Homo sapiens: one gene and its partners. The protein of the gene in region 3 purifies or fractionates together with the protein of the main gene of each other region. This does not show direct contact. Each region holds a gene or a part of one and is shown on either strand. Other genes may lie near its edges.

What was found.
Region 1: the proteins of SP6 (region 3) and POGLUT3 purify together in Homo sapiens (affinity purification with mass spectrometry; one large-scale study listed by BioGRID and IntAct). This does not show direct contact.
Region 2: the proteins of SP6 (region 3) and CCZ1 purify together in Homo sapiens (affinity purification with mass spectrometry, with the first as the bait; 3 studies listed by BioGRID). This does not show direct contact.
Region 4: the proteins of SP6 (region 3) and DNAAF3 purify together in Homo sapiens (affinity purification with mass spectrometry; 3 studies listed by BioGRID and IntAct, with this or other methods). This does not show direct contact.
Region 5: the proteins of SP6 (region 3) and MON1A purify together in Homo sapiens (affinity purification with mass spectrometry; 3 studies listed by BioGRID and IntAct, with this or other methods). This does not show direct contact.
Region 6: the proteins of SP6 (region 3) and KLHL8 purify together in Homo sapiens (affinity purification with mass spectrometry; one large-scale study listed by BioGRID and IntAct). This does not show direct contact.
Region 7: the proteins of SP6 (region 3) and KLHL24 purify together in Homo sapiens (affinity purification with mass spectrometry; one large-scale study listed by BioGRID and IntAct). This does not show direct contact.

The regions. Positions count from the first base shown.
Region 1 is NC_000011.10:108,484,474-108,488,561, reverse strand, and holds part of POGLUT3 (protein O-glucosyltransferase 3 isoform 1 precursor), read left to right. Parts: intron 1-2,121; coding exon 2,122-2,405; intron 2,406-4,088. UniProt on the Homo sapiens protein: Protein glucosyltransferase that catalyzes the transfer of glucose from UDP-glucose to a serine residue within the consensus sequence peptide C-X-N-T-X-G-S-F-X-C. Can also catalyze the transfer of xylose from UDP-xylose but less efficiently.
Region 2 is NC_000007.14:5,904,858-5,908,945, forward strand, and holds part of CCZ1 (vacuolar fusion protein CCZ1 homolog), read left to right. Parts: intron 1-236; coding exon 237-412; intron 413-4,088. UniProt on the Homo sapiens protein: Acts in concert with MON1A, as a guanine exchange factor (GEF) for RAB7, promotes the exchange of GDP to GTP, converting it from an inactive GDP-bound form into an active GTP-bound form.
Region 3 is NC_000017.11:47,844,101-47,848,444, reverse strand, and holds the end of SP6 (transcription factor Sp6), read left to right. Parts: 5' UTR 1-15; coding exon 16-1,146; 3' UTR 1,147-3,537; downstream 3,538-4,344. UniProt on the Homo sapiens protein: Promotes cell proliferation. Plays a role in tooth germ growth. Plays a role in the control of enamel mineralization. Binds the AMBN promoter.
Region 4 is NC_000019.10:55,163,465-55,168,119, reverse strand, and holds the start of DNAAF3 (dynein axonemal assembly factor 3), read left to right. Parts: upstream 1-1,706; coding exon 1,707-1,791; exon of another isoform or gene 1,792-2,056; coding exon of another isoform or gene 2,057-2,119; coding exon 2,120-2,262; exon of another isoform or gene 2,263-2,272; coding exon of another isoform or gene 2,273-2,338; intron 2,339-2,656; coding exon 2,657-2,750; intron 2,751-3,319; exon of another isoform or gene 3,320-3,576; intron 3,577-3,611; exon of another isoform or gene 3,612-4,033; intron 4,034-4,655. UniProt on the Homo sapiens protein: Required for the assembly of axonemal inner and outer dynein arms. Involved in preassembly of dyneins into complexes before their transport into cilia.
Region 5 is NC_000003.12:49,912,527-49,916,614, forward strand, and holds part of MON1A (vacuolar fusion protein MON1 homolog A), read right to left. Parts: intron 834-4,088; 5' UTR 821-833; coding exon 694-820; intron 1-693. UniProt on the Homo sapiens protein: Plays an important role in membrane trafficking through the secretory apparatus. Not involved in endocytic trafficking to lysosomes.
Region 6 is NC_000004.12:87,168,162-87,172,249, reverse strand, and holds part of KLHL8 (kelch-like protein 8), read left to right. Parts: intron 1-1,634; coding exon 1,635-1,803; intron 1,804-2,011; coding exon 2,012-2,171; intron 2,172-4,088. UniProt on the Homo sapiens protein: Substrate-specific adapter of a BCR (BTB-CUL3-RBX1) E3 ubiquitin ligase complex required for The BCR(KLHL8) ubiquitin ligase complex mediates ubiquitination and degradation of RAPSN.
Region 7 is NC_000003.12:183,649,031-183,653,118, reverse strand, and holds part of KLHL24 (kelch-like protein 24), read right to left. Parts: intron 2,824-4,088; 5' UTR 2,763-2,823; coding exon 1,843-2,762; intron 1-1,842. UniProt on the Homo sapiens protein: Necessary to maintain the balance between intermediate filament stability and degradation, a process that is essential for skin integrity.

The DNA of each region.
Region 1 (4,088 bases), on a different chromosome or scaffold from region 3:
ATACTCTGTCCTACAAAGTCTAGAGCTGCCTTGGTCTCCCTGGACTGCCAGCTCTGTCTCCTCAACTCAGTGAGGCTGCCTGGCTTTGCCTACAGTCCCCCTCCCTGTACTACAACCTCAAAGCTCCCTTAAGCAGTAGGCTGTAGGAATTGTAGGGCTTACCTTATTTGTTCCCCATCTCTCAGACTCACTGTCCTTCATTGCCTAATACCTAGTGCCTTAAAAACTATTGTTTAAGGCCAGGTGCGGTGACTCACGCCTGTAATCCCAGCACTTTGGGAGACCGAAGCAGGTGGATCACTTGAGGTCAGGAGTTCGAGACCAACCTGGCCAATATGGCAAAACTCCGTCTCTACTAAAAATACAAAAAATTAGTTGGGCGTGGTGGTGAGTGCCTGTAATCCTAGCTATTCAGGAGGCTGAGGCAGGAGAATCACTTGAACCCAGGAGGCGGAGGTTGCAGTGAGCTGAGATCACACCACTGCACTCCAGCCTAGGCAACACAGTGAGACTCCATCTCAAAAAAACAACAACAAAAACAACAAAAAACTATTGTTTCATATGTTTTGTGGGAGTGTTTTCTGGTTGTTTCAGGTGGGGTGGTACATCAGTCCCTGTTACTTGTTGTCAATGAAAAGAGTCAAACTTATGGCCAGGCATGGTGGCTCACGCCTGTAATCCCAGCACTTTGGGAGGCCGAGGCAGGTGGATCACCTGAGGTCAGAAGTTTGAGACCAGCCTGGCCAACATGGTGAAACCCCGTCTCTACTAAAAATACAAAAATTAGCCAAACATGGTGGTGCACACCTGTAATCCCAGTTACTCGGGAGGCTGAGGCAGGAGAATCACTTGAGCATGGGAGGAGGAGGTTGCAGTGAGCCGAGATCACGCCACTACACTCCAGCCTGGGCGACTCTGCCAGAGTCTCAGCCAGTGTGAGACTCTGTCCCCCTGCCACCAAAAAACAAAAATAAAAGAAAGAAAGAAAAAAGAAGAGAGTCCAACTCTAAAATATTTGAAGAGCTTTATTCTGAGCCAAATATTCAATTCAGTGAGACTACCTGTTTTTGCCTACAGTTTCCCTCCCTGCACTACAGCCTCGAAGCTCCCTTAAGCAGTAAGCTGTAGGAATTGTAGGGCTTACCTTATTGTTCCCCCATCTCTCAGACTCAATGACCAATGGCCCATGACACAACCCTCAGGACATCCTGAGAACCTGTGCTCAAGGTGATCAGGCTACAACTTGGTTTTATACATTTTAGTAAGACATAAGACATTAATCAATACATTTAAGATGTACATTGGTTTGGTTTGGAAAGGAGGGACAACTGGAAGGGGTGGGGGTGGTTGGGAGGGGTTGGGGGTAGCTTCCAGGTCATAGGTAGATTCAGAGGTTTTCTGATTGGCAGTTGGTTGAAAGAATTAAGTTATTGTGTAAAGACTTAGAATCAATAGAAAGGAATGTCTGGGCTTATGATAAGGGTTTGTGGAAACCAAGATTTTATCATGCAGATGAGGCTTCCAGGTAGCAGGCGACAGAGGAGATTGCAAATGTTTCTTATCAGACTTAAAGAGTCAGTTCAACAAAGTTTGTGTTGATGTTAATGCTGGTCAGCTAGGCCTGAATTCCAAAAGGGAGGAGGGTATAATGAGGCATGCCTGGTTCCCCTTTCCCTTCGTGGCCGAACTAGTTTTTCAGATTAACTTTGGAATGCCCTTGGCCAAAAGGAGGGATCCATTTGGACGGTCTAGGAGGCTTAGAATTTTATTTTTGGTTTACATAATGTCTAAAAATTAATACGTTCTTTTTCTCCTTGCTAAAAGGTAAGTTGTTTCATGTTTGCCAGCCATTTATACCTTATTAGAGATGAATTTATGAGCTAAGTGACCGAGAGTAGGTTAGATTGGGAGAGGGCATATACTAAACTGTTTATCCAAGGTGGTGTGAAAAGGAAAGTAAAAGTGTAGGACTCTAACATAATCACTTACACCACTGATTTGTCTAGGGCAGATTATCTCTGGATAATCTTAGAATTCACCAAGAAGCAGAGACAGAAGTGACTCCCTGTGTTGTGGTGCTTGCTAATGGAGTGCGGCCTTTTTCATGTTTTCCTTCCCTAGGACCAGTGTACCATGAGTACTGTGAGTGTCCGGAAGATCCTCAGGCCTGGCAGAAGACTCTTTCTTGTCCAACCAAGGAACCACAGATTGCAAAAGATTTTGCTTCCTTTCCCAGCATCAATCTCCAGCAAATGCTAAAAGAAGTCCCCAAAAGGTTTGGGGATGAGAGAGGTGCCATTGTTCATTACACGATTCTCAATAACCATGTTTACCGGAGATCTTTAGGGAAATACACAGACTTCAAGATGTTCTCTGATGAGATTTTGTTATCATTGACAAGAAAGGTAGGAGAATGAATGAATTGATAATACAGTTTAATTATTTAGGTATAACATTTAAATGTTTAGAATTATAATGACAAAGGATGAAACAGATTTCAGGCTGAGAAATGGGCATCTAAGATATTTGCAACCTGAGTGTTCATCATGTTCTCCATCTTTGTGGATCTTACTTTCCTGTAAGATTTAAAATTAAGTGGCTTGAGGCCAGGCATGGTGGCTCATACCTGCAATCACAGCACTTTGGGAGGCTGAGGCGGGTGGATCATCTGAGGTCAGCAGTTCAAGGCCAGCCTGGCCAACATGGCAAAACCCCATCTCTACTAAAAATACAAAAATTAGCTGGGCGTGGTGGTGGGCGCCTGTAATCACAGCTACTCAGGAGGCTGAGGTAGGAGAATCCCTTGAACCCAGGAGGTGGAGGCTGCAGTGGGCCAAGATTGCGCCACTGCACTCCAACCTGGGTGACAGAGTGAGACTCCATCTCAAATAAATAAATAAATAAATAAATAAATAAATAAATAAAATAGAATAAAGTGGCTGAGCCCCCATCCCAGGTAGGTATGCCATACAGGACACTCCCAAGCTTTCTTTGAGCTTCCAGAGATTTATAACAAGGTTACTTCTTATTCTTTTTTTCAAATAGTCTATATTTACAATATCCAAACAGAACAGTCTCATTTATTTATTTATTTTTAAATAGGGATGGGGTCTTGCTGTGTTGAGCAGGCTGGTCTCAAATTCTTGGGCTCAAGCCATCCTCCTGCCTCAGCCTTGATCCTAGCTGGGACTATAGGCATGCACAACCATGTCAAGAGGCCGCTTTAAGTTCTCTGTTCCGCTGAATACTACTCCTGCTTAGATTTCACCTTCTGCAGCTGTTTTCTTCTCTTCACCTCAAAATGACTTGAACTTAGAACACATTTTCCTTGTTTTACCCTAAGCATACCTAGAAGATAGCGTGCATGGGACATTTTGTCAAAGCTTGGGCTACCAGAAACAGGTTGTTTTTTTTTTCACCAGTGCATACTAAAAAACAAACAAACAAAAACCCTGATATTTAAAAATAGACATCTCTGCACTAATCAGACTCTCAGTCATACTTGCCTCTGGGAATTTCTCAGGGCTGTCCTTGACCTTAAGTTCTTAGCCTCTCACTAATGTGGTTAGGCCCTCTGTTTTTCAGGCTCCCCACATCCCCCAATAGCGCCCCCTTATCTCACTATTCAGCCTCTCTTTCCACATTTGCAGAACTCTAAATTCCTCTTAAGCAGAGCAACTTAAACCACCTTTTGTTCTTGTTTCTGATCATACAGGGTGAAGGATGGAGGTGGGCAATATTTATCTTTCTTACTTAGAGAGACCATAAAGGGAGTTTTTTTGTTTGTTTGTTTGTTTGTTTGCTTTGAGATGGAGTCTCACTCTGCCACCCTGGCTGGAGTGCAGTGGCACGATCTCGGCTCACTGCAACCTCTGTCTCCTGGGTTCAAGCGATTCTCCTGCCTCAGCCTTCTGAGTAGCTGGGATTACAGATGCACGCCATGCCTGGCTAATTTTTGTTTTTTTAGTAGAGAAGGGGTTTCACCATGTTGGTCAGGGTGGTCTCAAACTCCTGACCTCGTAATCTGCCCGCCTTGGCCTCCCAAAGTGCTCAGCATGAGCCACTGCGCCTGGCCAAGGGAGTTTTAT
Region 2 (4,088 bases), on a different chromosome or scaffold from region 3:
ACAATACTGAATAAACATTAAGTAGATATGTTTGAACTTTGTATCTTGGAATTGGTACTGAGACTGAGTTGGCACTCAGTTACCCATGTCTTCACCACGGCCTCATTGTTGCGCTGTTTGCTAGTATGTAATTGTACCATAAATGTGAGTCTGACATAAGATTATTTTCAGTTATCAAGGAGCATTATATTCAGTGTACTATTAGTAAATTTTATGCCTTATTTTTTTTCCCACAGTATTTGCAAACGCTACATTTGCAGTCATGTGACCTACTTGACATTTTTGGTGGAATCAGCTTCTTCCCGTTGGATAAAATGACTTATTTGAAAATCCAGTCCTTTATTAATAGAATGGAGGAAAGCCTGAATATAGTCAAATACACTGCTTTTCTCTATAACGATCAGCTCATCTGGTAGGTACACCCCGAGGCATGGTATTAAAAGAAGAAATTAAGATAATAAAAACAGCAGTGACTGGATTGATGACAGGTTGTCAAACAGGAACTTGCAGCGGGGAGGATGGGTAGGAAGCATCTTCATAGATATTGTCAAAATAAAGCAGTGATTATTTAAAGCAGAACTAGGGTGATTTGGGTTCAAATTTCCAAGCAGAGGAGTTTAAAACTGGTTGCATGAAAGATGAAAGGCTGGGCACGGTGGCTCACACCTGTAATCTTAGCACTTTGGGAGGCTGAGGCGGGTGAATCACGAGGTCAGGAGTTGGAGACCAGCCTGGTCAACATAGTGAAACCCTGTCTCTACTAAAAATACAAAAAGTAGCTGGGCGTGGTGGTGCATGCCTGTAATCCCAGCTACTCAGGAGGCTGAGGCAGGAGAATCACTTGAACCCGGGAGGCGGAGGTTGCAGTGAGCCGAGATGGCACCACTGTACCCCAGCCTGGCAACAGAGAGAGACTCTGTCTCCAAAAAAAAAAAAAAAAAAAAAAAAAAGAGAAAATGTTCCTATCAAGTAAGGTTTAGGAATCCTGTTTTTATTTTGGAGTTTTTTTTTTTTTCTGAAATGATAAAAGCAGAATTTTTATACCTTTTTTTTTTTTTTTCTTTCTTATAGAGACGGGGTTTACTGTGTTGCCCAGGCTGGTCTCAAACTCCTGGCCTCAAGCGATCCACCCGCCTCAGCCTCCCAAAGTGCTGGGATTACAGGCACGAGCCACTGCACCTACTTTCTTTTAAAGAAACTAGATTTCTTTTTTTTTAATCCAAGAAATCCAAAGTGTTATATAAACCAGGAAATTACCTGCTATCGTGAAACTAGGTTTGTGTCCTGCAGTAGGAACAACGTGGGCACAAGACTGCCCAGCATATGTGACCCCTGAGAGCTGGGTGGCAACCGAGGTTGTGCACATTTGGCCTAGAGTAGGTGGACAGAAGTCATCAAGGCTTGCAGCTGTTCTGGGACCCTCAAGTTTTATGTTCCCGTTGACTAGAGCCCACTTTCTTTCTTTCTTTTTTTTTTTTTTTTTTGAGACGGAGTCTCACTCTGTTGCCAGGCTGGAGTACAGTGGCGCGATCTTGGCTCACTGCAACTTCCCCTTCCTGGGTTCAAGCGATTCTCCTGCCTCAGCCTCCCAAGTAGCTGGGATTACAGGCATATGCCACCATGCCCGGCTAATTTTTGTATTTTCAGTACAGACAAGGTTTTACCATGTTGGCCAGGCTGGTCCTAAACCCCTGACCTCAGGTGATTCCCCTGCATAGGCCTCCCAAGGTGCCTCGATTACAGGTGTGAGCCACTGCACCTGGCCTAGCCCAGTTTCTTAATTAGGGGTGTGGCCATATGGTACTACTATAAGGTAAATTCAGCTAATAGAAAAGGCAAAACTAGTTCCCCTAAAATTTACCTTCCCTGCCAAAATCTTGTAGCTCCATTTTAAGAAGAGAAACAAGTTACTGTAAAGAAATTTGAATCCAGTTAATAAACAACTTGGTGGGTTTCCACATGAACTTTATCTCCTAGGAAGACAACAGAAATTTCGGGTGAAACCCATCTACTTTTTTTTTTGTTTTTGAGATGGAGTCGCTTTCTGTTGCCCAGGCTGGAGTGCAGTGGCATGATCTTGGCTTGCTGCAACCCCTGCCTCCTGGGTTCAAGCAATTCTCCTGCCTCAGCCTCCCGAGTAGCTGGGATTACAGGTGCATACCACAACACCCAGCTAATTTTTTTGTAGAGATGGGGTTTTACCATGTTGGCCAGGCTGGTCTCGAACTCCTGACCTCAAAGGATCCGCCCACCTTGGCCTCCCAGTGCTGGGATTACAGGTGTGAGCCACTGTGCCCCGCCTCCACCTACTTTCTAATTTGACAAATAGTTTATCAGGCAACCTTACACTGTACTGACTCAGCTATAGTTGCTTTCTGTGATATGTACACAATGTTACTAAAGTGAAATTCTGCTGTGAAATGTAGGAGATGGGAGGCTAGTTGTGCTTCTGTAGCATCAGGTCTGCAGAGGGATGGCTCCTCCACAGATGGAAATGACAGGACGTGCTTGCAAGTCACACGCAGCCACAGCGATAGGGAGATGTCATGTGACAAGCCAGAATCCAGCAGTAGTGGCCCATGGCCTTGCTTCCACCAAAAAGAGAAGGGTAGCTGAGATTCTGATCTCTGGGACAGAACACAAGCCCCGCCATGGGTGCAAACTCCTGAGAGTGAGGAAGAGGGAAGGCTTAGAGCAGAGGGTCTTCCAGGAGCTCATTCTGGGAGACCCTGGAGCCAGAGTGACCAGCAGGGTTGGCCCTTTGAAGCCTGGAGTCACAGGACAATCTGGCGCCCAGCTCTGGGGATCCTGTTGGCATCGTCATCTTGGAATAGCATCTGAGGGGTTGAGCAGGGCACAGCTCTGGTGGCTGCACAGAACTGTTCTGTTGTCACCTCCAGTGTGCTCGTGGGGAAAGGTCAGTCCCAGGAAGTAGCAACAAAAATAACCTTCAAGCAAAACAGGCGCCAATGCTTACACCTGTCATCCCAGCACTTTGGGAGGCTGAGGCAGGAGGATCACTTGAGACCAGGAGTTCAAGACCAGCCTGGGCAGCATAGTGAGACTGTATCTACAAAAAATGGAAAAAAAAAAAAATAGCTGGGCATTGTGGTGTGCACTTAGAGTCCCAACTACAGAGACTACAGAGGTTGAGGCTGGAGAATCACTTGAGCCTGGAAGTTTGAGGTTGCAGTGAGCTATGATAGCACCACTGTACTCCAGCCTGGGTGACAGAGCAAGACCCTGTCTAAGAAAAAGAAAAACAGCACGTTTTGACGGAATTGCTTATTCCAAAGCTGTTATATTAAATACCAAAAAGACTTTTAAGCCAGGCGTGGTGCACATACCTATAGTCCCAGCTACTGGGGAGGAGGAGGCAGAAGGATCGCTTGAGCCAGGAGTTACTTGGAGACCAGCCTGGACAATATAATGAGGCTCTGTCTCTACCAAAAAGTGGAAAAAAAAACTTGTCACAAGCAGAGTATATATTACCCTTATGTATTTACTTAGTATATTGCTTTGATTTTTTTTTTTTGAGACTGAGTCTCATTGGCTTGGTTGCCCAGGCTAGAGTGCAGTGATGTGATCTCAGCTCACTTCAACCTGCGCCTCCCAGGTTCAAGCGATTCTCATGCCTCAGTCTCCCAAGTAGCTGGGATTAGAGGTGTGTGCTATCAGGCCTAGCAAATTTTTATATTTTTTAGTAGAGACGGTGTTTCGCCATGTTGGCCAGGCTGGTGTTGAACCCCTGACCTTAGGTGATCTGCTCACCTTGGCTTCCCCAAGTGCTGGGATTACAGGTGTGAGCTTCCGCGCCCGACCACCTTCACGGTATTTCAGTGATCTTGAATAGAAAACGCCCAGATCCAGCCTCATTGTCTGTCTCCTTTTAAAAAACCGGTTCCAGAGTCTGATACCTGCTAGTTTCTCTGTGCTTTTTCCATGTGCTGCTCCTTCCTGCCTCATTTCAGATCAGGTGGTTTGCCTGAAAGCTTGTTTTTCTCCTCCTCCTCTTTCTTCACCGAAGATCCGGAGAATTAAAATCCATGTACATTTCTGAGACCTAGGATCACGTTCCCTGTCTACAG
Region 3 (4,344 bases):
CCCCGGATCCCGGCAATGCTAACCGCTGTCTGCGGCTCTCTGGGCAGCCAGCACACGGAAGCGCCGCACGCCTCCCCGCCGCGCCTCGACCTGCAGCCTCTCCAAACTTACCAGGGCCACACGAGCCCTGAGGCCGGGGACTACCCCTCCCCGCTGCAGCCTGGAGAGCTGCAGAGCCTCCCGCTGGGCCCGGAGGTGGACTTCTCGCAGGGCTATGAGCTGCCAGGGGCCTCCTCGCGGGTAACCTGCGAGGACCTGGAAAGCGACAGTCCCTTGGCCCCGGGCCCCTTTTCCAAGCTCCTGCAGCCGGACATGTCACACCATTATGAATCGTGGTTCAGGCCGACTCACCCAGGCGCGGAGGATGGCTCGTGGTGGGACCTTCATCCGGGCACCAGCTGGATGGACCTCCCCCACACTCAGGGCGCGCTGACCTCACCTGGCCACCCGGGGGCGCTTCAGGCGGGCTTGGGGGGCTACGTCGGAGACCACCAGCTTTGTGCCCCGCCACCCCACCCGCATGCGCACCACCTCCTTCCAGCTGCCGGAGGGCAGCATCTCCTAGGGCCGCCCGACGGGGCTAAGGCCTTGGAAGTAGCCGCCCCGGAGTCTCAAGGGCTGGATTCCAGCCTGGACGGGGCGGCGCGTCCCAAAGGCTCCCGGCGGTCGGTGCCCCGCAGCTCAGGCCAGACCGTCTGTCGCTGCCCCAACTGTCTGGAGGCGGAGCGACTGGGGGCTCCATGTGGGCCCGATGGGGGCAAGAAGAAGCATTTGCACAACTGCCACATCCCGGGCTGCGGGAAAGCCTACGCCAAGACGTCGCACCTGAAGGCGCACCTGCGCTGGCACAGCGGCGACCGTCCCTTCGTGTGCAACTGGCTCTTCTGCGGCAAGCGCTTCACGCGCTCGGACGAGCTGCAGCGCCACCTCCAGACCCACACCGGCACCAAGAAGTTCCCCTGTGCAGTCTGCAGCCGCGTCTTCATGCGCAGCGACCACCTGGCCAAGCACATGAAAACCCACGAGGGCGCCAAGGAGGAGGCGGCTGGGGCGGCCTCGGGAGAGGGCAAGGCCGGCGGCGCAGTGGAGCCCCCCGGGGGCAAAGGCAAACGCGAGGCCGAGGGCAGCGTGGCTCCCTCCAACTGAGCTCCTCAGTGCCGCCTCCCTGCGGGTATCCCGGGGGGCACTGGATGCGAGCCCCCAGGTCTGACGTCCTTGGGGGTGGCTTGAGGAAGAGGGGAAGGTGCGTATTTATTCAGGGAGGAGGAAAAGTGGTGCAGGGACAGGGAGATGGGGCGCTAGGGGTTCTTAGTCTCTGGGGCTACTAGGCAGGATGAATTTGACTGGGTCGGTAGGAGCTGCGCAATGCCCCTCTGTTCTCCCCTGCCTCACAGTTTCCCTCGCCCCTGGGCTGGGGGGTTGGGGTGGGACACCCGTACCGCGGCTGGCTGGCGGGGACAGGCTAGAGGAGACAGCAAGTCCCAGTCCCCGGAGCAGAGAGAAGTGGGGCCGGCCCGGGGCGCTGGTGGTGGCTGTCTGGACACGTCCTTAGCGCCTGGGAACCAGGACATAAAAGCGCCTCCGGAGCCGCCCTGCGGCGGGGTCCCTTTCATCCCACTTAAAGTGCTTCTGCCCCTAGGGTTTCCGGAGGGAGAGCCGAGATGGGATGGGGGAGCCTGGGGGTCCCCCTTGGCAGGGGTGTCTCTTTCTGGTTTGGAGGGTTGTTGCTGTAAAAATAACTCCTTTGATGAGCTTCCTTATTAACCCTTTCAGACCCAGTCTGTTGGAGCCATGAAGGAAGAGGGAAAGAGGGCTGCCATTCCTGACAGCCTCCCAGCCAGGGCTGGCGATAAAGGACCGAGATAGATGGAGGGGGCGAGTAGGGAAGTCCTCTTCTAAAATGAGAGATAGGGATTTGGTGGGGTATGGAAGGAACTAACCCCTTCCCTCTCCACCTCTGATTCAGCCCTTAATTCTTGGTCTATGATAAATAAAGTTCAGTAGTCTCACATTCCCCATCTATTACCCTAGGTGTGTTTTCAAGGCAGCCAGCGGTAGAATCCATGTAGTTCCCACCAGTTGCCTTCCCCTCAGGGATGGAAGGAAGAGGGTTTCTTGGGCTGGTTGAGGGCAGATTGGGGGTGTCTCATCAGAGGGACCTCCACTGGTTCCCACTCAGAGTGGAGGCCTGCAGCCTACCTGACCATCTCTTTAGCTGTCACCAAGAAAATAAACCCCACTGTCTCTCTAGCTTGGCCCTTGTCTTTCCCTTGCCCCTGCCATAGCATGTTCATTAGGGGATTCCTTCCTCCCCCTCATCTCACAGGGGAAGGGAGAGGAAAGAGTTGTTCTCCCACTGGAAGGGGTTCTGCCTTCTGAGGTGACATCCAGGAAGCTGTCCCCATTCCCTTCTCCTTTAGATGCTAGAAACACATTTTGATTCTGATCATGGGGTGGGGGAGAGAGGAAAGGAGGGAGGGGAGAAGCCCAGCAGAAGCTGAGCCAGGCAGAGGGGAAAGAAGCTGATATGAGGAAGGGTCTGACAGGCCACAGCCCTTGCAGCCGGAGGGCTTTCCCACACTCAAGAGAGGGGCCTTACAGTCCCTCTGACACCCCTCCCCCTTCCCCTCGCTCCCTTTCTTCACCCGGAGCCCTCTGCAGAGATTAGCTGTGTATTGATTTTTAAGTTATAAGCAAAGGGTATTTTATTTAATATTAGGTTATGTGTGTGCATGTTGTGTGTACCTGTGTGCATGTATGTGTGTTTCTCTACTGAGCCTGGGGTCTCTAGCCAGGGAGACCCCATCTTATTCACCATGTCCAAGATCCTGGGATCTGGGCCCAGCATCTCTTCCTCCTTTGTAGATGCTGGAGCCCAGCCAAGGTCTGGGAGCTATATGGGAAGTGGGGGCTGGGATCTGGGTGGGAATATGTGTTTGTATACAAAGGGGCCCTCCTTAAAAGGGACAGGATGACCTTCCCGAGGAACTCATTGGCCTGGGGTAGTTTAAGAAGTAATGTTCTTTCTTTCTTTCTCTTTTCCCTACCTCCTGCTAACCCAACCAGAGATCCCCTTCCTTGCTGAGAGGGTTGGGGGCAGGAGGAGATTTGGCAGTGCCTGCAGGTTGCCTGGCCAGGTGGAGAGGGGGAAAGAGGAAGGGCACCGTGGGTGTAAGATGCCTTTCTCCTCCACCCATCGAAACCAGCCACCCCTTCCCTGTGCCACCAAGACAGCCTTTTCCAGTGGCCATCCTAAGGGGAACTCCCAAATGGGTGTTGCTGGTGGACACAGATGCTCCCCCCAATGGAAGCCCCAAGCTCTGAGGTATGCGGGTAGAGGCTTTGGATAGGTTTTCTTCTGCTCCCCTCTTTTATAGATCTAGGCTGCTTGGCTGCCTGTCTTTCTAGGCAGTCCCCCTAGAGGAAAAATGTAGGAATTTATTTTTTCTTTAACTGCTGTGAACTCACTTTGAGGGGGTAGGAGGAGGGAGAAACAGCCTGTGTTTTTTATGCAATAAAGTCATCAACTACATCATGCTTCCTTTGTGTTCCAGCTCTGTTTCCTTTTTGACTCAGTGTCCCTCAGCAGTGAGGACCAGGTCTGGGCCACAGAGTGGGGTGGATGCTTCCCAGTGATCCTGCAGCCCCTTGGAAAGCCTCATGTCTATTGAGTTGGGTTGGAGCTGGGGTCTGATCCTGCCCCAGAGGTGGCTGGTACAGAAGGAGGGAGGTTCTTCCTCTGGGTTGGTACCCGGGCTGTCCCTCCCTGGTCTCATACCTGTGGTTATGAGAAGTTTCTAGATATCTCTTTCCTCTTCCACATACAAGCCCCTTCTTTCCCTTCCCCTGCTAAGAACACTGGTTCCCTCTTTCCCAGGCACTGGCTCCCTCACTCCATCCCCATAGAGGGTGCATGTCAGTCCATCCCCTGCCTGTGACTGAGCTGGGGGTGATTGGCAGTGATTACTTCACCCAGGATGATCCTTATCAGGGACAAGGCGATGAAAGGCAGCCGAGCTATCTGATGGGCTCCTGCCCAGCTGGAAAGTATGAGGGAAAGGCTCCTACTGTAGCTCACAGCTAGAGACCCACCATGGTTACACAACCACAAGGCACACAAACATACCCGCACTGGACCCACGTGCACCCGCCCCCAGAGATATGCAGAAATATCTATCTGTACACATCTTCCCAGGCCTCCCAGTGCTTGATACAAAGTTGGTGCCTAATTCACATCAAATGAGTAGAAAGCCTCATGATTCCAGAGCCCCAAAGCCAGGAAGGTTGACAGAAGATAGGTTTTGGGCTCCAAGGGGGCTGGGGGGCGGGGGTTACTATGTTCTT
Region 4 (4,655 bases), on a different chromosome or scaffold from region 3:
ACTCCAGCCTGGGTGTCACAGCAAGACTCCATCTCAAAAAAAAAAAATGTCACTCTGGTTCCTTTGCTGAGAATTTGTTGGGAGAGTGGGAGAAATAGGGAGGAAAGGCATTAATTCTCCAGAGAGAAACCCAGGATCTGGGGCTCTTGCAGGCTTAGAGCTGGCCTGGAAGGGGCTGGTTAGCCAGCCTGATTCTGCAGGAATGTCTGAGGTCTCAACCTTCGTTTCCCCAGTAGGTATTGTCTTCCCAGTGCCCAGATCTGCCCTCAGGAGGCAGATCCGCTGCACCTCTGCCCGCTGCACGCTACATTCCCATTTCACAGAGCAGCAGACTGAGGCTCAGAAAGGGTGACTGGTCTAAGCTCATGTGTCTGGGCAAGGAGAGGAGGCAGAGAGCCAAGTCCCCTTGGGCGCTGAGCCCAGTGCTGGGTGCTGGGGTGATCTAGAGATGTGCCTCATTCAGACTTTGGTTTTTCTTTTTTTTTTTTTTGAGACAGAGTCTTGCTCTGTCGCCCAGGCTGGAGTTCAGAGGCGCGATCTCAGTTCACTGCAACCTCTGCCTCCCAGGTTCAACAGACTCTCCTGCCTCAGCCTCCGGAGTAGCTGGGATTACAGGTGCGTGCCACCACGCCCGGTTAATTTTTGTATTTTTTAAGGTCGAGGCGCGGTTTCACCATGTTGGCCAGACTGGTCTCCAACTTCTGACCTCAAGTTATCTGCCCACCTTGACCTCCCAAAGTGTTGGGATCACAGGCGTGGCCACAGCGCCCGGCCGACTTACCCTTATTTTAATGCAGTTGATTTAACTGTACGATTACAGAATTTACCTGTAATTTTTTTGTTCATGTCAGAAGAGTAATGTGCCGATGTCGTAACAAGGTTTGAGGGAGGCACATCTCACGCATGCGCGTGAACACCCAATCATCCCGCTTAGAAACTACAAAAGGATCTAGCTGTAAGTTTAAATTATGGCTTCGTGTAACAATAACCAGCTCACAAATCCCTGAATTTTTAATGACCTGCACATCAGTGTCCCACCTGTGGGCTGTTCTGTGTGGTAGAGCCCACGTTGTGCTGGGGCGGGGAGCGGGCTCAGAAGCCTGCCATCTAAAGTCTAGACACTTCACTTTATTTGAATTGATGAAAATTCCGTTACGTATGAGCAAAGGCATATGAAGAAAACAAAAAAACAAAAAACAAGAAATAAGATTAAGCTCCCTTCACTCTCAATTTTAATCAGCCCAGGCCTCCCCCATTCCAGAAATTTGGACCGACCCTGACTCCGCCCCAACCTGTTCTAGCACCGCCCCTTCCCCCGCCGGCGCCGTCGTCATGACAACCGCGTCCACACGCCCTCTTCTCCTAGGTGTGGGGGAAGGCTGGCCCTCAGTGCTCCCATTGGCCAAAAGTTTGTAGAGGGCGGGCCTCGCTCACTCTCATTGGTCAGTTGCTCGCTGTGGTCCCATCCCACATGCTTCCATTGCTTGATTCCTCGAAAAGGGCGGGGACTCTGGGCAGCGGTTGTGGAGTGCCGCGGGTCCACAGTGCTGCACTGAGCAGAGAGGAAGGGGCGTCCCGGGATATTTGGAGGATAAAGGTGTGGGCAAGGTATCATGTGGAGGCAAAGGGGCGAGAAGTGAGGGGCGGTGAGAGGGGAGCGGGGCGGGCAATGTGTGCGATTCCCAGAATGTCTTTTCCGCAGGGTGATGACCACACCTGCCGGCTCCGGCAGCGGCTTCGGCTCCGTGTCCTGGTGGGGCCTGTCCCCGGCGCTGGACCTGCAGGCTGAAAGTGAGTCCCAGCACGCAAGGTCTGATACACCGTCTGCCTTCCCAGCCTGAGCAGACGGCCTTTTAGAGCTCGTAGTCCCAGCGTCGGTGGCAAGGGGGGCGCTAACGTTCTCCAACGCTCCAGCGGCAGAGGGCGCGCTCCCAGGGGCAGCCCCGAGGTCCTGTCTGCGGACTGCGAATCCCAGAATACTCAGAGGAAACACCTCCCCTTAGAACCTAGGCCACGGGCGGAACGCCTACTGGGATTTGTAGTCCATTTTTTATAGGGGATGCTACGGTGGACGCTCTGCCAACCACCATGGTGCCCCAGCCAGCTGTCATCTTGCCAGGTCCTCCTGTGGACCCAGACTCCCAGGCCGATACAGTGCACAGCAACCCCGAGCTAGATGTGCTGCTTCTGGGCTCTGTGGATGGACGGCACCTGCTGCGGACCCTGTCCCGAGCGAAGTTCTGGCCTCGCAGGAGGTTCAACGTGAGCTGGGATGAAGATGAGAGCCCAGATTCCCGAGTCCTTGAGGGAGGAAGGGATTGAAATTCTAAAACCTCAGGTCCAGGAATGAAGGGGCTGGAGACTCCTAGATCTGAGGGAGGCAGAAGCTGGGAGCGAACCGATGCGTCTTGGGGGAAGGAAGGGGCTGGGGTTTGGAACTCCTGGGTTCTATAGTGGGGAAGAGCTCGAGGATGAGGTCTTCTGAGTAATGGAAGGGAAGAGAGCTCTGGGGACACAGACTTCTGTGTTTGAAGGAAGAGGCTGGTGTACAGAACTCGGGTGTGTGGAAGGAGAGAGCTGAGGGCCTGCTCTCCTGGGTCTCCTAGGACCCAGGCAAACAGGTCTCAGAATTATTCTGCCCTGTCCATCCTTCTAGTTCTTTGTGCTGGAGAATAATCTGGAAGCTGTGGCCCGACACATGCTGATCTTCAGCCTAGCCCTGGAGGAACCGGAGAAGATGGGGCTGCAAGGTCTGTTGCTAGGACCCAGGCATTCTGACCGCTGGTCTCCTCCCCCTCCCTAGAGGGATTCTGGCATTTCAATGGTACAATTAAAAAGTTTGGTTATTTTCCTGGGAGGCGGAGGTTACAGTGAGCCGAGATCGCGCCATTGCACTCCAGCCTAGGCAACAAGAGCGAAACTCCGGCCGGGCGCGGTGGCTCACGCCTGTTAATCCCAGCACTTTGGGAGGCCGAGGCAGGAGAATGGCGTGAACCCGGCAGGCGGAGCTTGCAGTGAGCTGAGATCGCGCCACTGCACTCCAGCCAGGGTGACAGAGCGAGACTCCGTCTCAAAAAAAAAAAAAAAAAAAAAAAAAAGAGAGCGAAACTCCATCTAAAAACCAAAAATGTTTGGTATTTTCCAGTGTGGTACCTCTGATGAAAAAAAAAATCCAATATATTTATTGATGATGGTCCCCTCTGATGTAATTTGCCATCTTAGAGCCTCAGCTCCTCCTACCTGTAAAATGGGGCTAAATATAATACATCTTAGAGCCACTTAGAAAATTCCAGGAGAGGCTGGGTGCAGTGGTTCACACCTGTAATCCCAGCACTTTGGGAGGCTGAGGTGGGCAGATCACGAGGTCAGGAGATCGAGACCATCCTGCTCAACATGGTGAAACCCCGTCTCTACTAAACATACAACAATTAGCCGGGTGTGGTGGCAGGCGCCTGTAGTCCCAGCTACTCGGGAGGCTGAAGCAGGAGAATCACTTGAACCCGGGAGGCAGAGGTTGCAGTGAGCCGAGATCACACCACTGCACTCCAGCCTGGGCGACAAAAGCAAAACCTCCATCTAAAAAAAAAAGAAAGAAAGAAAAAGAAAACAGGTTTGTTTGTTTATTTATTTATTTATTTGAGGCAGAGTCTTGTCCCGTTGCCCAGATTGGAGTGCAATGGCACGATCTTGGCTCTCCATAACCTCTGCCTCCTGGATTCAAGCAATTCTCCTGCCTCAGTCTCCCAAGTAGCTGGGATTACAGGCATGCACCACCATGCCCGGCTAAGGTTTTGTATTTTTAGTAGAGCCGGGGTTTCACCATGTTGGCCAGGATGGTCTCGAGATGCTGACCTCAGGTGATCCGCCCGCCTTGGCCTGCCAAAGTGCTAGGTTTACAGGCGGGTGCGATCACACCCGGCCCCAAGAAAAGAGGTTTAATTGACTCACAGTTCCACAGGCTGTACAGGGAGTATGGCTGGGAAGGCCTCAGGAAACTTACAATCATGACAGGAGGCGAAGGGGATGCAGGCATCTGTTCCACGGCAGGAAAAGGGGCAAGAGAGGCAGTGGGGAAGAGGCGCACACTTGCAAATAACCAGATTTTGTGGGAACTCACTATCACGAGAACAGCAAGGGAGAAATCTGCCCCTGTGACCCAATCACCTCCCACCAGGCCCCGCCTCCAATATTGGGGATTACAATTCAACATGAGATTTAAGCAGGGACACAGATCCAAACCATATCAGTCATTAATGACCCAGGGAATTCAGAGTACATTGCACAGTACAGATTGTTCAAAGTTCTTAAACAGTTAGAACTAAACTGATCTATTTTACTAAAGGCACATAGTTCTCTTCTATTAAGTTCTTAAACAACTAACATGAAACTATTTGTATGTCTATGTGTATATATATTATATGCAAAGGTATATACAGTCATCCCTCAGTAACACTGGGGACTGGTTCCAGGACCCCTGCAGATACCAAGATCCAAGGATGCTCAAGTCCCTTATAAAATTGTATAGTATTGCCAGGGGCGGTGGCTCACGCCTGTAATCCTAACACTTTGGGAGCCTGAGGTGGGAGGACTGCTTGAGACCACGAGTTTGAGACTGGCCTGGTCAACATAGTGAGACCCCGTCTCTACAAGAAATA
Region 5 (4,088 bases), on a different chromosome or scaffold from region 3:
AACTACAATGGTACCCAGTAAGGTGCCGGAACGCAGCACCTCACCCTGTGTCTGGAGCACTGCCCATACTCAATGAATCTCTCTCTCTGGGAGAAAGCTCCCCTACCCTACTCAGGCCATAGCTCCTGACTGACCCCACTATAATGGCGCCGCAGCCTGTGACTGCCTCAGGGCAGGGACCAGGTCAGTCTTCCTTTATTGATTTTTTGACAAAATAGTTTAACAGATATATTTTGAGTCTCTCTTGCGAATTCAGCCCTGTACCAGGCACTGGGGATATAACTGCTCTGCGCTCAAAGTGTTCACAATCTTGTGGAAGAGAGAGATGGGCAATATATGCATAAAGAGATAAAATTATGAAATAATTAGTGTGCTATACAGAGCATGGTCAGAGCAGGCCTAACTCGTGAGGAGGGGAGAAGGAGCCGGGGAGGTGCGCTGTAGACACAGGGAACAGAAGAGCCCACAATGGCAGCCAGAAAGCTCAGGGCGAGCAGCATAACATGAAGTGGAGAGGAAAGCCAGATGCAGAATGAGCCTGGCCTCCTGCCTTATCCCCAGAACCTGACAAATATCCAATGAGTGACTGACAAATGCATGAATAAGTGGAAAGGAAAAAGTGGTTGGGAATCCTAATTCCCCCTGGAGACTGCTCTGGTTGGCAGCTGGCTGAGGCTGTACACTTGCCCATACCTGGCTCCATTCCCTGGGCCATTCCTGGTGTGGGGCTCTCAGCTCTCTCCATACTCTGTCCATCAGAAGGAGTCAATGTGCCATCAAGGCATTCGCTGCTTCTCTTCCTCTGCATGTCAGTAGCCATCCTTTGAGCTCTCCTGTGGGGCAAACAAATGCAACATCGATGGCTTTTGGCAGGGTCACAGGCATAATCAACAGTGGTAGTAAGTACAGGAAAGTGTCCTTTATCAGGACTCCACTAACTCAAATCTCTAGAAAATGGATTCTGAGAATTCCTTTCAAAAAAATATATACTGTTCCTTTTCTGATTATAAAAGGAAGACATATTCATTGTAAAAAAAAGACTTGGAAAGCACAGAAAAGTAGAAAGAAATATCAAGATTTTCCTACCATTCAGGATCTTTCACTGTTCATACGTTAGTGTATTTCCTTCTAGTATTTTTTTTTTTTTTTTTTTTGAGACAGTGTCTCGCTCTGCCGCCCAGGCTGGAGTGCAGTGGCATAATTTCGGCTCACTGCAGCCTCCCCCTCCGGGGTTCAAGCAATACTCGTGCCTCAGCCTCCCAAGTAGCTGGGACTACAGGTGGGCACCATCATGCCTGGCTAATTTTTGTATTTTTTGGTATAGACGGGGTTTCACCATGTTGGCCAGGCTGGTCTTGAACTCCTGACCTCAAGTGATCTGCCCCTCTCGGCAGATTGTTGTTGTTGTTGTTGTTGAGACAGGGTCTCACTCTGTTGCCAAGGCTGGAGTGCAATGGCACCAACACAGCTCACTGCAGCCTTGACTTGGGCTCAAGCAGTCCTCCCATCTCAGCCTTCCCAGTAGCACATGCCACAGCCAGCTAATTTTCTTTTCTTCTTCTTCTTTTTTTTTTTTTTTTTGAGACGGAGTTTCGCTGTTGTTACCCTGGCTGGAGTGCAATGGCGTAATCTCGGCTCACCGCAACCTCCACCTCCCAGGTTCAAGAGATTCTCCTGCCTCAGCCTCCCGGGGTAGCTGGGATTACAGGCATGCACCTGGCTAATTTTGTATTTTTAGTAGAGACGGGGTTTCTCTGTGTTGGTCAGGCTGCTCTCGAACTCCCGACCTCAAGTGATCCGCCTGCCTCGGCCTCCCAAAATGCTGGGATTACAGGTGTGAGCCACCGTGCCCCACCTTTCTTTTCTGAAACAGGTCTGGCTCTCTTGCCCAGGCTGGAGAGCAGTGGCGTGATCTTGGCTCACTGCAACCTCTGCCTCCTGGGCTTAAGCCATCCTCCCACCTCAGCCTCCTGAATAGCTGGGACTACAAGCACATGCCACTGCGCCTGCCTAATTTTTTTTTTTTTTTTTTTTTTTTTGAGATGGAGTCTTGCTCTCTCACCCAGTCTGGAGTGCAGTGGTGCGATCTCAGCTCACTGCAACCTCCACCTCCTGGGTTCAAGCAATTCTCCTGCCTCAGCCTTGCAAGTAGCTGGGATTACAGGCACCTGCCAGCACATCCAGCTAATTTTTATATTTTTAGTAGAGACAAGGTTTCACCATCTTGGCTAGGTTGGTCTTGAACTCCTGACCTTGTGATCCGCCTGCCTTGGCCTCCCAAAGTGCTGGGATTACTGGTGTGAGCCACTGCGCCCGCCTAATTTTTGTATTTTTTATAGAGACAAGGTCTTTTCATGTTGCCCTGGCTGGTCTCAAACTACTAGGCTCAAGCAATCCTCCCACTTCAGCCTCCCAAAATGTTGGAATTACAGGCATGAGCCACCATGCCCAGCCTGGTCTTTTAGAAAATGTACATAAAATGTAAATAATTAAACAAACTGATAGCAGCAGCTAACAGTTATTCAGTGTCAGCGTATCATGCTAAGAGGTTTCTGTGGATTAAGTTACCTAATCTTGATCACGCCTCTATGAGGCATGTGTTCCTGTCAGGCTAGCTTTATAGATGAAAGAACTGATACTGAGAGAGCTTAAGGAGCTTGCCCAATGTTACTACAGGAAAGAAGTGCTGGATTTGGATCTGGGAGTTGAAACAACTCTGTATCCTGTATCCAGTGGCTCACTCCTGTAATCTTAGCAAAGATTGGAGGCCAAAGAGGGAGGATCACTTGAGCTCAGTAGTTCACTAGCTGGGGCAACAAAGTGAGACCCTGTCTCTACAAAAAATTTTAAAAACTAGCCAGGCATGGTGGCATGTGCCTGTAATCCCAGCTACTAGAGAGACTAACATGAGAGGATCACATAAACCCAGCAAGTCAAGGCTGCAGTAAGCTGTGACTACAACACTGCACTCCAGTTTAGGCAACAGAGTGAGACCCTGTCTCAAAAAACTAAAACTAAAAATAAATAAAAATAAAAATTAACTAAGTTGACCAATAGTTCTTTTTGGATATCTAGGTGTTTGCAGATAAAAAAGTGAGACACAGGCAACAGGCTTGTCTTCAGGCTGCAGCCCTGCTTTTCTCTAAATATCCTTTTGTACCTTTTGAATTTGGCACAAGGAGTTGTCTTAACAATTAAAAACAACTATAGACATGTCAACTCTCAGTGCCCATGTAATGGCCAGGATAGATTCAGCCGGATCTCCTTGTCCTTCCACAGCCCCAGGCCCAGGTGGAGGTGGCCACAAGTGAATGTCAGTGGTAACAGAGCTAGCTGGGTGGCTCACCGAGGCTGGTAGCAAGGCTTATTTGGCCTCTAGGGTCCTTCAATGGCAGGCTGAAGGATCCTCACTTGTCAGGCAACATACAGTTCACCCAAGAGGGGATCCATTCCAGGTACCAATCCTTTAAGAAAGAGGGATCTAGCTGGATGGACTAGAAGGGCAGAGACTCATGGAGCAAACACTGCAGGCAGGCCAGGGGCCCAGGAGGCACTGGTGTTAGTGTGAGCAAAGTAGACCTGAGCCTGCATCCCAGAACACAGAGTCTGGTGGGAATAACTGAGCTCTTGTCCCCTCCTAGCTGTGTAACCTTGGGCAAATGACTCTTCCCTGGAAGCATGGCATAAAGTAGGTGTTCAAAAAAGTTCATGAAAAGGGTGGTCCCAAACAGATAGCATCACCATCAGTAGCATTTGTGTGGCATCAGCCAGTCTGTGTCCAAGAACATTCTCTCTGGACCTGGCATAGCTCCAGTCAGGCAGCTCCTATGTGTGTGCCCAAAGAACTAATTTTCAACCTCTTCTTTTTGTCACCTTTAAGCTATGTAATTCTTTCTTTAATTGAATCTTTTGCAGAAGCTCCACGTGCAAACAGATAGGGAAGCAGAGCCTGTATCCTGACAGCTGGCCTGGTGGCCACTCCTGCACTGAGCCTGAAGGACCGCAGAGCACATGGAGGGTTGGGCACCACTGCCAACAGCATCACCCCACACAGAATAAAACCAAAGAAAGAAGGTTGGGGAGATAAT
Region 6 (4,088 bases), on a different chromosome or scaffold from region 3:
TTGGCTACAAGTCACTGCCAGATCCTTCCCACATGTTCCCCCCCACCTTCAAACAAGCAATGGCACACTGCATTCACTTGGTTTTTTGAATTTCTGACAATCAGCTGGAGAAACCTCTCTGCTTTTGAAGGTTTGTTTGATTAGATTAGGCCCGCCAAGGTCACCTCCCTTTTGCCATATAATGTAGCATAGTCATGAGAGTAACACCAGGGGATGAAGGTCATGGGGGATGAGGAGTATCTTAAAATTCTGCCTACCACAGCGAGGTGGGCAGTGAGTTTCATTTCAGATTAAAGTTAAGGTTGAAGAGCCAGCAAGACATATTTGAGGTAGAAATTGGGTATATGTCTGAAAATATATATTTGAATTATCACAAATCTGTGGAAAGAATGGGATATGCTTAGGGAGAGAAAGTGTAGAGTGACCCTTAGGGAACTTTATAATTTAATGATGGAGTAAAGAAGGCACTGATGAAGCTGAAAAGCACTAGCCAGAGACGTAGGAGTGGACTAAAACGTATGATGTTATGAAAACCAAGAGAGTTTTGAGGAGTAGGAAATAAGCCAATGATGTTGTCTGCTTTTGTCCTTTAAGGGGAGGGACAATTATGAGGCATACTTACTTTATTTCCCTGACCTAACATCGTTACATTCTAGAGAACACATGTACTTGTTCTCACACACCTGAACATTTTTATCAGCACAGTATTTGGTAAGTCATAGCTTTATACCCAAGAGAAAAGAGGTTGAGGAGCTTGAAAGTGAATGATAACATTATCCTTAAGAATTCTTTTGTTGGATACTCTCTGGTAAATTTAGAGTTAGAATCTCAGTGAAGCAGCTGCTTTCTCCAATAATAATAAAAGCTAATACTTCATAGAACTAAATATGGGCCAGACATTGTTCTTAGTGCTTTACATGTATTAACTCATTAATATCCATCTATGTCTCAGATGAGACACAAGATAGTAGAGGTTTATAAATTATCCAAGCTAGTGACAAAATAATAGTTTGATAATAGTTCAACTTTTGATTGGTGCAGTGTGTTTTTTAAGAAATTGAGTTTTTTTTTTGATCACTGTTAAATCAGCTTTTAACATGGGCTAAGTCTCTTACTTTTAGAGAGAAATAAATACGCTTCAGAAATAAAGCAACGTGACATAAAACTTGTAATATAAAATTTAATACTCTTTTGTGTGGTATAATGAAACCCTGCAACAAAATGAGCTCTGTAATTGCATGGATTTGTAAGTGAGATTGGCTTCTGACCTCCGCTGCAGAACTTCTCTGTCAACTCATTAACCTCTCAGTTATGCCGCTGTGTGTGCACTAATTGAATATTTTGAACTCTTTTATACTATTTTGTTGGGTTATATTTTATTGTTTTGAGTTTAAAGTAGCCTGTGTAGGCTATGCACTGTACAACTTCAGGGGGCAGTATTCACATAGAGTTGCACAGTTTGGCAATTCTGTAGCCATCTAGTCAAAAGCTTTGATAGATCTAAAAATAATGGAAACAAACTATACTGTTTGAAGGTTAACATGATAAATGATTTGCATTAGCACAATTTTTTATATGACTTTTTTTCCTGGAAACAAACTCATTTGCTAAAGTATGTTTTATTGTCTTTGCAGGCGAGGAATTGCCTTGGCTTCCTTAGGAGGCCCAATTTATGCAATTGGAGGGTTAGATGACAATACTTGCTTCAATGATGTGGAGAGATATGACATAGAATCTGATCAGTGGAGTACAGTGGCACCAATGAATACTCCCCGTGGAGGAGTTGGCTCTGTTGCTCTAGTAGTAAGTTATATGGCAACTTGTCATTAAATTACATTGCATTACATTCATAACCAAAATAAGGAAAGGTCCAATATATCATCACCAGTATGAAGATATTATATATCATATTATTTCCTGAAATACTGCCTTGTACATTCTAATTTACCATTAAAACAATATATAAATAAATTCGAAATCTAATGTGTTTTGTTTGACTCTCTTCATTTAGAACCATGTTTATGCAGTAGGTGGCAATGATGGAATGGCTTCTTTATCTAGCGTGGAGAGATATGATCCACATCTGGATAAGTGGATAGAAGTTAAAGAAATGGGTCAGCGAAGAGCAGGCAATGGAGTTAGCAAGCTTCATGGTTGCTTATACGTAGTTGGTGAGTAAATGGGTATTTCTCTAATATATCAGTATATACAATGACAAGTGTCATATAACAGAGTAACAAAAATTACATTGCATTTAGCCTTAAGTAGAATCGGTCCTGAAATGTGCTTTTGAATTCTTTCTTACAAAATTTTGTTTATAATTAACAGAGAATTGTACATGTTCAGTCTGATGCTTTTGAATTCTTTGTTTTTTTTTTTTTCAGAGGGAGACAGTGTCTTTCTGTTGCCCAGGCTGAAGTGCGGTGGCACAATCGTAGCTCACTGCAGCCTTGAACTCCTGGGCTCACATGATCCTCCTGCCTCAAGCCTCTCAAGTAGCTAGGACTAGAGGCCCAGGCTATCACACCCAGCCAGTTTTTTTCTGTTTTTTGTAGAGATGGGTTCTTGCTGTGTTGCCCAGGCTGGTCATGAACAACTGGCCTTAGGTGATCCTCCTGCCTTGCCCTCCCAGAGTGCTGGGATTACAGGCATGGGCCATCATGCCTAGCTGAATTGTTAAGGTCACATTCATAATTTTTGTTTAAATCTTCATCTTTCATGTTTAAAACATGTACAGCCTTATTTTTCTAAGAGTAACAAATTTATTTAAAGAAGGGGATTACATTTAAATAAGGTATATGTTTTTAAATGGAAGGACACAGATTGAATGTGCTTTGCTACAATAAATTTTAAAAGGTCTCAGATTTGTTTTTCTCAACCTCATTTCAAGGGAAATTATGTTGAATACTTCAAGTAAGCCAGTAGGTATTTATTTATTTATTTTTGAGATAGAGTTTTGCTCTGTCACCCAGGCTGGAGTGCAGTGGTATGATCTCAGCTCACTGCAACCTCTGCCACACATGTTCAAGCAATTCTCCTGCCTCAGCCTTCTGAGTAACTGGGATTACAGGTGTGTGCTACCGTGCCCAGCTAATTTTTGTATTTTTAGTAAAGACAGGGTTTCATCGTGTTTGCCAGGCTGATCTTGAACTCCTGACCTCAAGTGATCTTCCTGCCTTGGCCTCCCAAAGTGCTGGGATTACAGGCATGAGCCACCACACCTGGCCTAGGTATTTCATATAAATAAAGGTCATGTCAATGTTTATATTGCTTTTTTTTTTTTTTTTACTTTAACAATCTTTTATTACCAAACCCCATGCAGGTTTAACGCTTTAACCCACCTAACAGCAAAAAAAGGCATTGCTAACAAGATCAAGGATGAAGGTACAGACCCAATAAAGATTGTGTCTTAAAAAAGAAGGATATATATATATGTGTGTGTATATATATGTGTGTATATATACGTATATATATACACATATATATACACACACATATATACACGTATATATACACACATATATATACGTATATATATACACATATATATACGTATATATATACACACATATATACACACATATATATACATATATATATCTTTTAAAAAATAAAAATCTCCAGTGTTGCAGAAAAAAATATTATAAATTGATTTCAGTCCATAAAAAACAGCATGCAGCAGTTTGTGCTATCTTAAAAACCCCAACTCAGGATAACCCTAGGAGAAAATCACCTCCCCCCATTAAAGAAGAATTCTCTTTTCTATTCTTTCTTGTCTAAATTTCACTGCTTATTCCACAAAACGCCGAAAGAATAACAAGACTCAGTTCACATCCCTCAGCCCTTGTCTGTCTGTTAAGGCCAACACCAAGCGCTGTTCCTTAGGAGTCTTCACCTTTACTACAATCAGAAAATTGAGCCCTAATTTCACGGCCAGATTTCTAGAAACCTGCAAAACCCTCATAGTTCCCTCAAGGAAGGACCTGAAGGCCCCTTGAAAGATCAAGGGAGTATAAGTGTACTTGGCAGAGACTGGAATGCCTGCCAGGCTGGGAAAAGGGGGCCTTTCTACACAAAAACACCCCCTA
Region 7 (4,088 bases), on a different chromosome or scaffold from region 3:
GGAAATAGATTTGTTCCCTTAAAAATTGGATATAAAATACATTTTTGGAAATCAAATAATTAAGTAAGTTAGGAGAAGTATCTCTTCAAAGGAGTGATGGGACCCTTAGGCTGCAATCTGATTGCATTCAAATTATGTCTTTATAAATATTAGTAATCAATGTCTTATTTTGATTTTACAACATATAACCCTTGGTTCCTACTCTAATCCTATGAGATATGCAGGCTGAGTATTATTAGCCACATCTGACCTCAGACCATTCAGTCTGCTACAGGGGTATTTGTCTTGGAAAAAGGAGTGATTTTCCCTTTAGAGGGATACTGTGTGTTCATGAAAGTTCTCGAAGAACTAATAGTCACACAGCTCTGAAGCTGTTTAGTTTTCTTAATTAATACATTATTCAAACTAGTATAAATTTTAAAAACAAGCTATCTCACAGTATGCTGACTTTTAACATTCCGAAACAATGATAGTCAAAATTTAAGTAAAAATGTGGTTTATGAGCTATGCTATAGTAAATTCACAGAAAAAATGGAGATGGCTTAATAATAAACCAATAATAAACTAATAAAAATACTAGTTTCACAACAATGTAAATATACTTAACATTACTGAAATGTATAATTAAAAATGATTAAGACAGTAAAGTTTATGTTATGTGTTTTTTACCACAATTAAAAAAAAACCAACACCAACATTAGCTTTGTTAGAAAAATATTAAAAGGATTAAAAGGATAATTTACTGTAATATTTCTCATAACAAGCATTTCTTGCTTATTCACAATAAATATTCCTTCCACTATTAAGGCATGGAGATTATTTTTCTATAGTTTATGAATTAAAATCGATAAGTATTTTATAGAAATAATATACTGGAAGAAGATACAAATATGCTACAATATTTAACTGCATTCTACCCCCTAAGCACACATTTTCCAAATTCTCTATAATGATGATGTAATTTTCACATTCAGAAAAAAGATTTTTTAAAATTGAGATTGACATTAAATATAATAACTGTGACAATTAAGTAATATTTGAGGCCTGGATTTTACATCTCAGAATTCACTCAATGTATACCAGCTTATTTAATTCACCTCTATATTTCATGCTTCTGTGTTAGGACAAAGGCCAGTCTGTGGATGTGCAAACATTTTTTTTTCTTTTTTTTTTGAGACAGAGTCTCACTCTGTTGCCCAGGCTGGAGAGCAGTAAGAGCATGGCTCACAGCATCCTCAAACTCCTGGGCTCAAGCAGTCCTCCCACCTCAACCTTCTGAGTAACTGGGACTACAGGTCCGTGCCACCATGCCTGGCTAATTATTTTTAGTAGCGATGAGGTCTCGCTATGTTGCCCAGGCTGGTCTCGAACTCCTGAGCTCAAGCGCTCCTCCACCTTGGCCTCCCAAAGTACTGGGATTATAGGTGTGAGCCCCTGTGCCCAGGAGCAAATTGTTTTTTTATAAGTAGAGGCAGTCCAAGAGAGCCTACTAAAATCTTAGCTACCCTGTATCCAAAGACTCTTTGGAAAGAAAAGTGGAATGGTTTGGGGCCCTACAAAGGTTAAGAGAAATTAGTAGAAATATGTTGAGATATGCACAGTTGCAAAGACCCTTTGCTACACTGTTTGATAGCACAAAACAACAATAACAAAAAATGCTACTGTTGAATCTAGAATTCACTAGGAAAGACATTCTAGTGACATATAATCCAAAATAAATCTAAAATTATATACAGCCACAGGTAGACAGTGCATATAAATGACAACACTGAGATTGCATTCAGGAGGTTTAAAGATATATTAAAAACTTTTGTTAACTATATTTGAAAACAGTCTTCTCACCTGCGTGGCCTAGTCCTTGGGGACATCATTTCATTCCCAAGTATGTGGTACCGTCTTGCTTCATGCAACAACTGATAACACTCAGGAGAATTCTGGATCAATTGGTCCACTTCAACTGTTTGAACAAAGTAGTTGGGATGCAACAGAGGGAGTCTCACATGTGTCAGGAGCTCGTGTAACAGTGGTCTTCTCAGATCAACGGCACGATAGACCCAACGCATGACGGCTTCAAAAACCATCTCCTCTTTACCAATAACAAGTTCATCACTACAAATATAATCAATAAGTTCATCTTTGTCAAGCTCAAGAAATTCTTCGTGCTGGGATACATCCTCAAAAGTCTGTAACGCAAAATTTTTGCATTTTGTGAAGAGTGTTTTGAGTGAATGGGTATCAGCAAAGCGCTGGATTCCTAAGCAATTACAAGGATCAAGTTGCTCCTCCAAGAACTTGGCACATGCATCACGGAGAACACTAATCTGAAAGAGGCTTGATGTCTCAAAGAGATACTGTACATTCTCTGTAGTGATCTTCACCTTTCCAGTATAAACATACTGCAAAAAACATTCCATAGCTTCAGCTAAAATACCATTGATCTCAACCAACATTTCTCGGCTTTCCCTGTGGTCATTACAAAACATAGCTCTGAAGTAGCTGCTACAGGCTGAGAGCACAGCTCTATGGCAAGGAAATTCTTTTCCTTCCACACAAATGATAACATCTGTGAATAAGCGGCTATCACGAAATTCATTAAATATCTGGAGTATGTTTTCGGCATGGGATGATCCTGAAGAGAAGTCAAAAAACTCATGACCTGTCAGAGATTTGGGGTCCATTTCAAAAACTTTTCGCTTAGTTGCTGGGGAATCACGCACCCCAAGATCCTCTCTGTTTAGTCTGCGTCCCAATATTAGTACCATTGTTACATCAGTTGACTATATAATTGTTGAGAAATGACTATTAGGGATCTTCTTTATGTGGCTAAAAGTAAAAAAAGGAAAACATTTCAATATGCAAAAAATTCAGTATTCAAATCACATAATTTCATTTTAATATAAACACTACAACAAAATCACATAATATATTTCATATAGGGTACACAGCACTATCTCATGTTAATAAAAACTAATCAACAAAAATTTGCATTTGAACAATTAGAACATTGGGGTAATTTGCAATAGTACTCCTTAAGCTCCCCTTTTCTAGCTGAAAGGATACTATGTACTTCGTGAGTTACTAATAACCTTCCGTTTCCTCCCCATTTACAGAGCTGAGTTTCATACTATTGACTGTAGAGTTAAGTCAGAATGGTGTAAGACACAATTTGACTACAGTTAGAATTCTAACAGTTATCTTTCTTTTTAAGAATCTTTTTTATTTTGAGACAGGGTCTCACTCTGTCACCAAGTTTGGAGTAAAGTGACATGATCATAGCTCACTGTAACCTCAAACTCCTAGGCTCAAGCGATCTTCCTGCCTCAGCCTCCTGAGTAGCTGTGACTATGTGTGCGTACCACCATGCCTGGCTATTTTTTTTTTTACTTTTTGTAGAGATGGGATCTTGAACTCCTGGCCTCAAGCGATCCTCTCACCTCAGCCTCTCAAAGTACTGGGATTACAGGCATGAGCCACCATGCCTGGTGAAATAATTATTATCTTAATATAGAATTCCTAGAGAGGAATTTAGCTATATCTATCAATAGCCTTTAAAAATATGTACATTGTTTGACCAGCAAGTCCTTTTTTTTTTTTTAGCACTCTCTCCTAAGGAAATAATCAGAATTATGTCGACAGATTTATCTATGCAGATGTCCAATGCTGTATTGATAGAAAATACTCAAAATAACCTAAATGCCCTATAAGAGGGGATTGGTCAAACCACAGTACATCTTCTGGCTAGAACAAAGTCTATGCAACCATTAAAAATTATATATGACTATTTAACGACATGGGGAAGTAGTAACCACACAGTAAGTGAAAAAGTAGATCACAAAACATATGCCAACAGAAAAAATAATGTATCTGTGAATCTAGGGATAGGATGTACATATGCTAAAATGTTTTATTTATCTTCTCTATTTTCTACCAAAATTTCTATTATAAAATTTAATATTCATTTAAAAAAATTTCATGCATGTTATCTAGGTCTTGTTCCCTTTCACTAATAAGAAACATCCCAAAACCCCCTCAGAAATGACTTTCAGTAAGTAACTGATGGATTGAGGCACTTGGCTATAGCCATCAAT